2 separate regions of the Homo sapiens genome follow, and region 1 is linked to region 2. The links come from fine-mapping of genetic effects on gene expression. Tissue or cell type: blood mononuclear cells. Region 2 holds a variant in brackets; the other region holds the start of a gene. All regions are shown on one strand. Distances are between the middles of the regions.

The links. PIP is the estimated chance that this variant, and not a neighbour inherited with it, causes the effect.
Region 1: it holds the start of ALDH5A1, and the variant in region 2 is fine-mapped to the expression of ALDH5A1 in blood mononuclear cells (TOPMed, PIP above 0.99).

What each region holds. Positions count from the first base shown.
Region 1 is chr6:24,491,861-24,496,970 of GRCh38, reverse strand. ALDH5A1 (aldehyde dehydrogenase 5 family member A1) reads right to left here and starts at 2,002. Exons shown (of 10, transcript NM_001080.3): 1 at 1,621-2,002. The coding sequence starts at 1,974. It also overlaps a transcript of GPLD1 not described here. RefSeq lists a silencer at 1,607-1,996.
Region 2 is chr6:24,546,382-24,551,587 of GRCh38, reverse strand. It overlaps KIAA0319, which reads left to right. Exons shown (of 21, transcript NM_014809.4): 20 at 63-154; 21 at 4,245-5,206. The coding sequence ends at 4,423. Among named protein-coding and RNA genes, the nearest start is that of ALDH5A1, 54 kb to the right of the region's middle. RefSeq lists an enhancer at 3,835-4,357. The variant A/C (reference allele first, on the strand shown) is at 2,662.

The sequences.
Region 1 (5,110 bases), 55 kb after region 2:
TGTATCTCATGTCCTCAATGAGACCTACCCTGATGTTACGGGCTGAATGGTGCTCCTGGCAAAATTGACATGTCGAAGTCCTAACCCCCCAGTATCTCAGAATGTGAGTGCATTTGGAAATAGGGTCTTTAAAAAGGGAATTAAGTTATGATGAGGTCATTCTGGTGGGCCCCAATCCAATCTGACTCCTGTTTTTAAAAGAAGAAGAGATTAGGACACATATACACACAGAGGAAAGACCATGTGGAGACACACAGGGAAGATTCATTCATATAACCAACTGCTTACTTTACATCCTCACTTGGGCGTGAACAGACATCTCAGACTCCATGAGTCTAAAATTGAGGTCTGATGAGATACAAAGACAAAAGCTGAGCTCTCTGCAAGCCAATGAGAGGCCTTAGAAGAAACCAACTCTGACAACACCTCGATCTGGGATTTCTACCCTCCAGAGCGGTAAAATGAGAAATGTCTGTTGTTCAGGCCACCCAGTCTGTGGTACTTTGCTATGGCAGCCCTAGCAGAGGAATATGCCTGGTCACACTGTTGATGCTGCATCTTGCCCCTTCCCTCTGGCCCGGATCCTCTCCTGCTTCTACCTTTTTTCCATATTGCACTCAGCATCTCTCACATACTTATTTGCTTAGATATTATGTTTGTTGTTTAGAGTTCTGATCTCTCTTCTGCTCCCCTTCCACCCCATGTGAGCTCCATAAGGGCAGAATCCTTCTTTCGTTTAACTGAGGTATCCCAAGCACCTCCAACAGTGCAGGGCATACAGCAGGTGCTCAGTAAACAGCTGATGGATGAATGAGTGCTAAGACTCTCTTGTACTCGTAGGGATCGCTGGATGCATTCCTTCAGAGGGAGAGCTTTGAAGGACACGGTAAAAAATTTCACTGCGTTGACTCCAGGTTTAATAATATAATATTAGAAGGAAGAAACTACTTTCTTAGTTTTCTTCTTACTCTATTCTTCCCATTTAATGGCCCTCCACCCCTTACTCCCAATTCTCCAGTGTTCTCTATGCAATGGCCAATAGCAGCATTTATCCATTTAGGGTGAAAACCTGGAGAACGCTCCTGGATTTCTCTCTTCCCCTGCACAAAACCCAAATCTTTCTACAGTTCTCTCCGTTTCCGATCCCATGATTCTGGCCAGGGGCCCTCACTACCAGCCTTCTCAAGGGCCGCTGAAGCAGCCTCCTGCGTGGGCTCCCTGCAGCTGCGGAGATATTTCAGCTACTCTGAAGGGCCACACGTGCTCTCACTTCCCTGACACCCCTCCCCTTTCTCCCCGCCCCTCCACGGTTAGGCTTGTTGACCATAACAAGCAGCTCGCTTGTATTAGGCGCTCACGTTCTGCCTCCCCTACTGGGCAGTGCATAACTTGATGAGGCTTGAGGGCAGGGGTCGTGTCCCTAGTGCCCGGCTCAAAGTGGAAGCTCCAAACTTATTTGTCGGTCGTCTCCCTTGTTGCTCTGACTTTCCACTTTGTATACCCTGGGGAACTGAGCACAGGAGGGAGGCGACGCGGCTGGTGTCACTTTGGGGTAAAGCCCCCTCTGCTCCCCGCCGTGTCCCCGGCCAGCTCTGGCCCCCTGCATCCGGGCTCTCTCACCTTGGCGGAGACCTCCCTCCAGCGGCAGAAAGCCTCGTAGGCAGCGCGCACGGCGGCGCGGGCCTCTCGCACCCCGCAGTCGGCTACCATGCCCAGAGCGGCGCCGCTGGCCGGGTCTTGCACGGGGAAGGTGGCGGCGGCCGGGAGCCAGCGGCCGCCCACGAAGCTGTCGGTGCGCAGCAGCGCCGCAGAGAGGCCCGCCAGGCGCCCAGCGTAGCAGCGGAGCTGGGCCGGGCCGGGCGCAGGCCCGGAGGCAGGGACCAGGCCGCCGGCGCGGGGGCGGAGGCGGCAGCCTGGAAACGTCGACCCGAGGCGCCGGGCCCCACAGCTCCGCAGCCAAATGCAGGTCGCCATGGCCCGGGCAACGACGGCGACAGGAAACAGGCAAGCGGGCGCGCGCGCACGGGAACGCAGGGGTCGCGGGGAAGCAAGAGGAGCGAGGAGGCGCCGGGGACGCGCGGGGAAAGCGTGGGAGCTGGCGGAAGGTTGCAGAGCCACAGAGCAGCGCCCTCTCTCCGCGTCTTTCTCGCTGCACCGCCGCGCCGCCCTCTGCACCTTGCCCTAAGCGCCGCGCGGCTTCTCTCCTGGCGCGACCTTCTCCCGGGGGAGGGTTGGGTTCGGGGATGGAGAAGGCTCGCCAGTAGATGCACCTGCGGACTGCTGTCACCTTTTCACTTTTCGGGTGCTCATTTGTCACTAACTGCTCCTGAGCCCCCAATCGCTGCTAGAGACCCACTCTCTCCCCTTAGCATCCCCCAAATTCGGCATCCCCGGAATTTGTGCGCGGTCCATAGATGCGCTGGTGCCTGCCCTAAATGCCAAGGCCGTGATCACGCTTCTTCAGTTGTAGCTCCTGAGCACGTAGTATTGATTGGGAGCGATCGTTCTCTGAGGGGTCGAAGTGTGACCCCGCGTTCTGCTGCCTGGCTGCTTTTTTGGGTGTGTGTCTAGGCATTCTCCTAGGGTTGCTCCCGATAAATAACAGCGCTTTGGAAATAAACAGACTAGGATCCAAACTCAAGTCTGTTGCCGACAAGCTGTGTGACCGACAGGTTAACCTTAGTCCAGTCACTTATAAAATAGAACCATATCTACCCCATTTTGTTGTGAGATAACGTAAAATGCTCATTACAGTTGCCACATTAAATTCAATATAGCGTTCAAAGTCATACTAGCTACCCTAGTCAAGCCACTAGTAAGATTAAAGTTGGGTCACCAACTAGTAAATGGAAGCATTTGTCAAAATTGAATCAACCAAGGTATAAGGATTGAGCATACTATCCAACCAAGGTATTTGAGCACCTTTAAACAGCATTCTTCATCCGTTAAAAAATTAGACTTGGGCTTAAGACTCTGAAAGCAGCAGGGAAGCTTAAAACCTAATGAGGATAAAAATAAAAATAGCAGGCGTATGCTGGGAATTTGTGGGTGCAAATGAAGCCCAGCCCTATGCATTGATTTTAGGTTACATATCTCCCTTTCTCAACTCCTACAGCGTTGAGAGTATCTTGCTAGCTTTCACCTTTTTCTAGGACGTTGAATTTTTTTCTAGGACATTTGCAAAATGCCGAGGCAGTAACTTTAAATTTTGACTTTGTCTTTTGCTGAGTCAGATCCATTGAGTTTTGAGCCAGTCACATATGGCAGAAGTGATAACAGTAGAGTTTAATCAATTTCACACTATTTTGCTCTGTATTTTATTGCAGGAACTGGGGAGAACCAGGGAGTCCTAATAGGGATGTGGGCCAGTAGGTATCACAGGTGGGGCTGGGGAGCTGGCGTGTTTACATCTCCTGCCTGCGGAGGGAGTTTTTGTTTTTGTTTTGTTTTGTTTTTGGTGGTGGTTTTTGTTTTTTGTTTGTTTTGTTCTTGTGAGACCGACAGACTCATTCTGTCACCCAGGGTGGAGTGCAGTGGTGCGATTTCAGCTCCCTGCAACTTCCGCCTCCCGGGTTCAAGCGATTCTCCTGCCTCAGCCTCCCGAGTAGATGGGGCTACAGGTGTGTGCCACCAAGCCCAGCTAATTTTTGTATTTTTAGTAGAGACAGGTTTTCACCGTGTTGGCCAGGCTGGTCTTGAATGCCTGACCTCAAGTTATCCGCCCTCCTTGGCCTCCCAAAGTGCTGGGATTACAGGGCTCATTTCTACTGGCCTGGGGAAATCATTCAATTGAGGCCTCAATCAACTGAGGCCCAGAAAAGCCAAGTTAATTGTGGCTGCCTCTCTTGTTCAAAAATTACCCTAGCCCACTTACCTTTTTAAGGTTCTATTTCAAACGGTACCCACTCCCTTTCCCAGATGACTTATCCATTACGCACAGTAGGTACGATGCCAAGGGCCCATAAAACTTTTAGGAGCACTCACAAATGTTTAATTTATTCTAAAATCTGAAGAAAAGAAGTTTTAGGTGGCATATTAATATGTTAATCTTACACCAATGCAGATGTAAAATGTGATTTCTATTTATTGTTTACTTATTTTTGTGACAGGAAGTACTTCACAAAGGCAAAAGCGCCTGGAGCTTAGAAAGTTCACAATGTGGCCCTCCCCTTTTCCCTCAGTTTTGTGCCCCTCTTCAAGCCCCCATTCAGAGTGTAAACAATTTCCTCCTGGCTCCTGTCTTACTTCCAGCCTGTCCTGATGCCCCCTAGCGCCTGGCTGGGTGTCTGTCCTTACCAGGGCCTACAAGGACAAGACCATCAGGTGAGAGGGACCTCTTCCCTCCTTTCTCCTTTGGCTGCCCTTGTCCTGGGAACCTCCACTCCCCAGTTCCCACCCTTATTCATCCTCTCCCCCATTTTCTTTTTCTTTTTTTTCTTTCACTTTTTTTTTTTTTTTTTTTTTTGAGTCAGGGTCTTACTCTGTCGCCCAGGCTGGAGTGCAATGGCACGATCTCAGCTCATTGCAACGTCTGCCTCCTGGGTTCAAGTGATTCTCCTGCCTCAGCCTCCAGAGTAGCTGGGAGTACAGGTGCGCGCCACCATGCCTGGCTAATTTTTGTATTGTTTAGTAGAGATGGGGTTTCACCATGTTGGCCAGGCTGGTCTTGAACTCCTGACCTCAGGTGATCTGCCCACCTCGGCCTCCCAAAGTGCTGGGATTACAGGCATGAGACACTGTGCCCAGCCTCTTCTCCCCCATTTTCTAGACTGGCCCACATAAAGCTTGAGACCCTCTGGCTTTCAAACCTGTATTCTCCCTACTCACTCCTTAATGTAACTGTATGTTTACTTTTCACCTTGGGTCTCTATTTCCAGAAGAGTTCTAAATGGTAGAATCATGCTGTCTTGTTTATAACAAAGCCACCTATATTAGGAAAGGGGGGTGTGGGGCAGAAAGAAAAATATTTCCATATGCTTATTATTTGTCAGATAGTAATATTGTGAGCTACGTTTTAACTTTCTTTAAAGTCATATCTTTGATGTTTTTATTGTTACCAAAGTAATACAAACTTCATAAAACTGCAAGCAATATTGTCATATAAAGACCA
Region 2 (5,206 bases):
AAATCCTAGCTCTCAGTTACCTTTCTAAAGATCTGAGTTGAGCTTTTCATTGTTCCTTTCAGACAAAAAAGGACTAAAATCAGGAAAAAAACAAAGTACACCATCCTGGATAACATGGATGAACAGGAAAGAATGGAACTGAGGCCCAAATATGGTAAGACAGTCTGCAGAATGACTGCCTGGCACCTTTATATGATTTAACCTAGGTAGGCCTGAGGGCTAACTTGGATAGAGGGAGAACGATTTGCTGGAGTCAGCACTTTAATTGGGAAGGAAGAGTGAGGCTGGGATTCTGTGATGAAAAACAACCTTCAGGCCGGGCCCAGTGGCTCATGCCTGTAATCCTAGCACTTAGGCCAAGGCGCCTGAGCTCAGTAGTTCGAGACCACCCTGGGCAACATGGTGACACCATCTCTACTAAAAAATACAAAAAAAAAAAAAATTAGCCGGGCGTGGTGGTGTGCGCCTGTAGTCCCAGCTATTCGGGAGGCTGAGGCAGAAGAATAGCTTGAGACTGGGAGGTGGAGGTTGCAGTGAGCTGAGATCACACCTCTGCACTACAGCTTGGGCTACAGACTGAGACTCTGTCTCAAGAAAGAAAAAGAAAAATAACCTTCATCAATCCTGAGGATATGCTAATGCGGGGGTGGGGGCAGAAGGCAGTGGGTTCATTATAAATTTAATGAAATTTTGGTGTAATACTTTGAGGCATTAATGGATGAGGGATATGAAATGTTATCAGCTGGGCACCTACCAATGACCACAGGGCAAAGACTGCTTTTTAAACAGAGATGTCCCCAGCACCTGCTTTTTTTTCTACTCGCGGGTGGAGGGTGGGGGCAGTTGAAGACACTCCCACAGCTCAGCTCTGAACGCTGTTCCCTTTAGGTCTGCTAGGACAGAAATGCAGCAAGAGGACATTTGGACTTTAAAGCCTAACATTTTTCAGCAGCTGCGTTATCTAATTAGCCATTGATAAAGATGGACACAAAGGCTTTACAGAAAATTGACTTTCTTCACAAAGTGTATTGATCCCTATGCTTAGGAGCACCTGTTGCCCACCTCGGTTAACTTTTTCATTCTCGTTTATTAACTGTTGCATACTTAATGAAACTTCTCTGGCCCTCTGAGGCTGCTAAACACCGATTCTATAGATTTTCCATAATTCTGGGCTTATGACTAAGATAATTTTTATGGAAGATATAATCTTTTTCAGAGTTGTGAGGTGCAAAACATTGTTCACAGTGAGTGTTGAATGCCTACCTTGTGCACAGGCACCGGGTTAGGCCCTGGAGACTGGGAGAGGAGGAAGCACAGAGCCTGCCTTTACAGGAGCTCACAGCCTGAGGGAGGGTAATTATACTGGAGTGCAAGGAGTTCTATCAGTGCATGGACGATGCCGGGTAGGAACACTCAGGTCAGAATGACTGATCGTGTACAGAGAGTGTAGCTAATAGGGCTTTGGCAGGAAGAGCCTCACAGGAAGAACAAATAGTGGCATACATTGAGTGCTCACCATTTGCATTGCATAATATCAGAAGTATTATAGTGACGTTTACCTAAGAGCTCAACGTGCTTTAGGTTGCATTATCTCACCCATCTTTGTCTTAAAATACACTCATCCTTCTGACATTCCTGTTTCTATTCATAGAACCCCCATTCTCACTGCCCCAGTTTGAAACCTCAGTCGCTGGTGCTCCACACACACCGCCCCCCACTCCAGACACCCGCACTTGCTAGACTCTTGCCCTCTTTCCTCGTCATTACCATCACCACCCCAGTTCAGGTCCTTACAGTTTCACCCGTGAACTAATAGTAATAATAAACAGGTATTTAATGTTGAATATGTACTAGGTACATCTCAAGTACTTTACCCATTGAATTCTAATCCTGCCCATAGCGGTACGAGGTATGTGCAATGATTATCCCCATTTTACACATGAGGAAACTGAGGCAAAGGAAAGTTTAGCAACTTGCCCAAGTAACATAGCTGGTGAGTGCTGAAGGTGGGGTGGAGGCTGGGCTCTTCCTCTATGTTGCACTGCCTCTGCCTTGGTCTGTTTGGGCTGCTCTAACAAAATGCCACAGAAGAGGAGGCTTATGAACAACAGATATTTATTACCCACAGTTCTGGAGGCTGGGAAGGCAAATTCAACATCTGGGCAGGGCCGCTTCCTCATAGTTGGTGCCTCCTCACTGCATCCTCACATGGTGCAAAGGGCAAGGCAGCCTCTGGTGCCTCTTTTTTTTTTTTTTTTTTTGGAGACAGAGTCTTGCTCTATCCCCCAGACTGGAATGCAGTGGTGCAATCTCAGCTCACTGCAACCTCTGCCTCCCAGGTTCAAGCAATTCTCATGCCTTAGCCTCCCAAGTAGTTGGGATTACAGGCACCTGTCCACCATGCCCAGCTAATCTTTTTTGTATTTTTAGTAGAGACAGGGTTTCTCCATGTCAGCCAGGCTGGTCTCGAACTCCTGACGTCAAGTGATCCACCCGCCTCGGCCTCCCAAAGTGCTGAGATTACAGGTGTGGGCCACCACACCTGGCCTCTGGTGCCTCTTTTATGTGAGCACTAATCCCATTCGATCACCACCCAAATGCCCCACCTCTTAGTACCACCATTTAGGCATTAGATTTCAACACATGAATTTGTGGGGGTGC[A/C]AACATTCAGACCACAGCAACCTCTATGTCTACTGTCCGTCTTCCATCCTGCACACTGTGGTTTTATTAATGTCTCAGAACAACATTTTAATAGTGTCATTTCTCTGCTTTTAGGATAAAATCCAAACTTCATGGTTTACTTTGTATTCATGTGCTTTTCTGTGAGGTCCCTGCCTTTCTCCGGCCTCTCTCCTTCATTATTTCCTACATGAATCATTTGCTCCAAACAAACCAGTTTTTTTCTAAATATTCCCGGATGCTTCTGCATACTCCATGACCTTCCCCGTCCTCTTGTCTAAAATCTCTTCTTCAAATCTCACTGATAGAGACAGGAGACAGCCAAGAGTCCCTGGCGAAACCCCACCTCCAAGCCTAAAACAGCCTGAAGGCTGAAAAACTGGACTGCTGGTCCCCAGTGAAGGCCCTGCCCTTTCCCAGCTGATTCTCCCTAAGTAATGTCCACCTGCGCACTGGGGAAAGAGGATGGAGCCACAGGAAGTTCGTGTCATTTGCAGTGGGGAGGAGCCTGGCCTCTTCAGTTTCTGTGTGGTAACCTGGGATTCAATCTGTGAGGCAGGAGGTTGTTGGCAAGACCCCCTCTCTATTTGCTGAGAGTTTTTGTTTCCTTTTTGACCAATAAATTCCATTTTTCTCACCCCTCTATGTTTCCGTGAGCCTAATCTTTCCTGGTAGTGTGACAAGAGCCTGGTTTTAGCTGAACTAAGGAGAAAGTTCTGCAACATCACCCTATGGGAAACATTACTGAAGCAACCCCTGCCATAAGTATATGTGCTTATCTCCTAATTCATATACAATTTAAAAAACATCTAACCTGTTATGAGCCATCTTCTCATGAGTCTATGCCTTTTATGTCTTGTTTTTGTTTTTTTTCCCGAGACAGGGTCTTGCTCTGTCACCTGGGCTAGAGCATAGCAACACGATCATAGTTCACTGTACCCTCGAACTCCTGGCCTCAAGTGATCCTCCCACCTCAGCCTCCCAAAGGGCTGGGATTATAGGCGTGAGCCACCATGCCCAGCCAAGTCTATGTCTTAAACCCCTAGCTAGACACCATAAATCCTTTGAGAGTAGGAATTGAATCTTATACCTGTTCTGTATCTTAGGTTGACCCCCTGAAATCAAATATTCTACCAAAAATATTTTAACCAAATGGTAAAATCACAGAAGCTTTCGTTTGTTGGATGCTTACAATGTACTAAAGGCTGGGCCAAGAGAGCTTTACATGCACTATTTCACTTAATCCTCAGCATAAACTCATGGGGTAGATGCTTTGTTATCTTCCAGTTGAATAGAGGAGGAGACTGAAAGCTCAGAGAGGTTCGGTATCTTGCCCAGGCTCAAGCATCTGGCGAGTGTCAAAGCTGGGACAGAAGCTCGGGTGAGGCATCAAAGCCCCTGCAGTTACTTGCTAGGAAACCCAAACCGCCTGCTGTTTTGAGTGATTGCTTTCAAGGGGCGGAGAGCACCACTCCGTGCCCATCACAGGACCTGCAACCACAACGACTGACAGCTGGAAGTGAATCACGGCGTTCCTCCTCAGATGCTTCTGTGCTTCTCTCTAGGTATCAAGCACCGAAGCACAGAGCACAACTCCAGCCTGATGGTATCCGAGTCTGAGTTTGACAGTGACCAGGACACAATCTTCAGCCGAGAAAAGATGGAGAGAGGGAATCCAAAGGTTTCCATGAATGGTTCCATCAGAAATGGAGCTTCCTTCAGTTATTGCTCAAAGGACAGATAATGGCGCAGTTCATTGTAAAGTGGAAGGACCCCTTGAATCCAAGACCAGTCAGTGGGAGTTACAGCACAAAACCCACTCTTTTAGAATAGTTCATTGACCTTCTTCCCCAGTGGGTTAGATGTGTATCCCCACGTACTAAAAGACCGGTTTTTGAAGGCACAAAACAAAAACTTTGCTCTTTTAACTGAGATGCTTGTTAATAGAAATAAAGGCTGGGTAAAACTCTAAGGTATATACTTAAAAGAGTTTTGAGTTTTTGTAGCTGGCACAATCTCATATTAAAGATGAACAACGATTTCTATCTGTAGAACCTTAGAGAAGGTGAATGAAACAAGGTTTTAAAAAGGGATGATTTCTGTCTTAGCTGCTGTGATTGCCTCTAAGGAACAGCATTCTAAACACGGTTTCTCTTGTAGGACCTGCAGTCAGATGGCTGTGTATGTTAAAATAGCTTGTCTAAGAGGCACGGGCCATCTGTGGAGGTACGGAGTCTTGCATGTAGCAAGCTTTCTGTGCTGACGGCAACACTCGCACAGTGCCAAGCCCTCCTGGTTTTTAATTCTGTGCTATGTCAATGGCAGTTTTCATCTCTCTCAAGAAAGCAGCTGTTGGCCATTCAAGAGCTAAGGAAGAATCGTATTCTAAGGACTGAGGCAATAGAAAGGGGAGGAGGAGCTTAATGCCGTGCAGGTTGAAGGTAGCATTGTAACATTATCTTTTCTTTCTCTAAGAAAAACTACACTGACTCCTCTCGGTGTTGTTTAGCAGTATAGTTCTCTAATG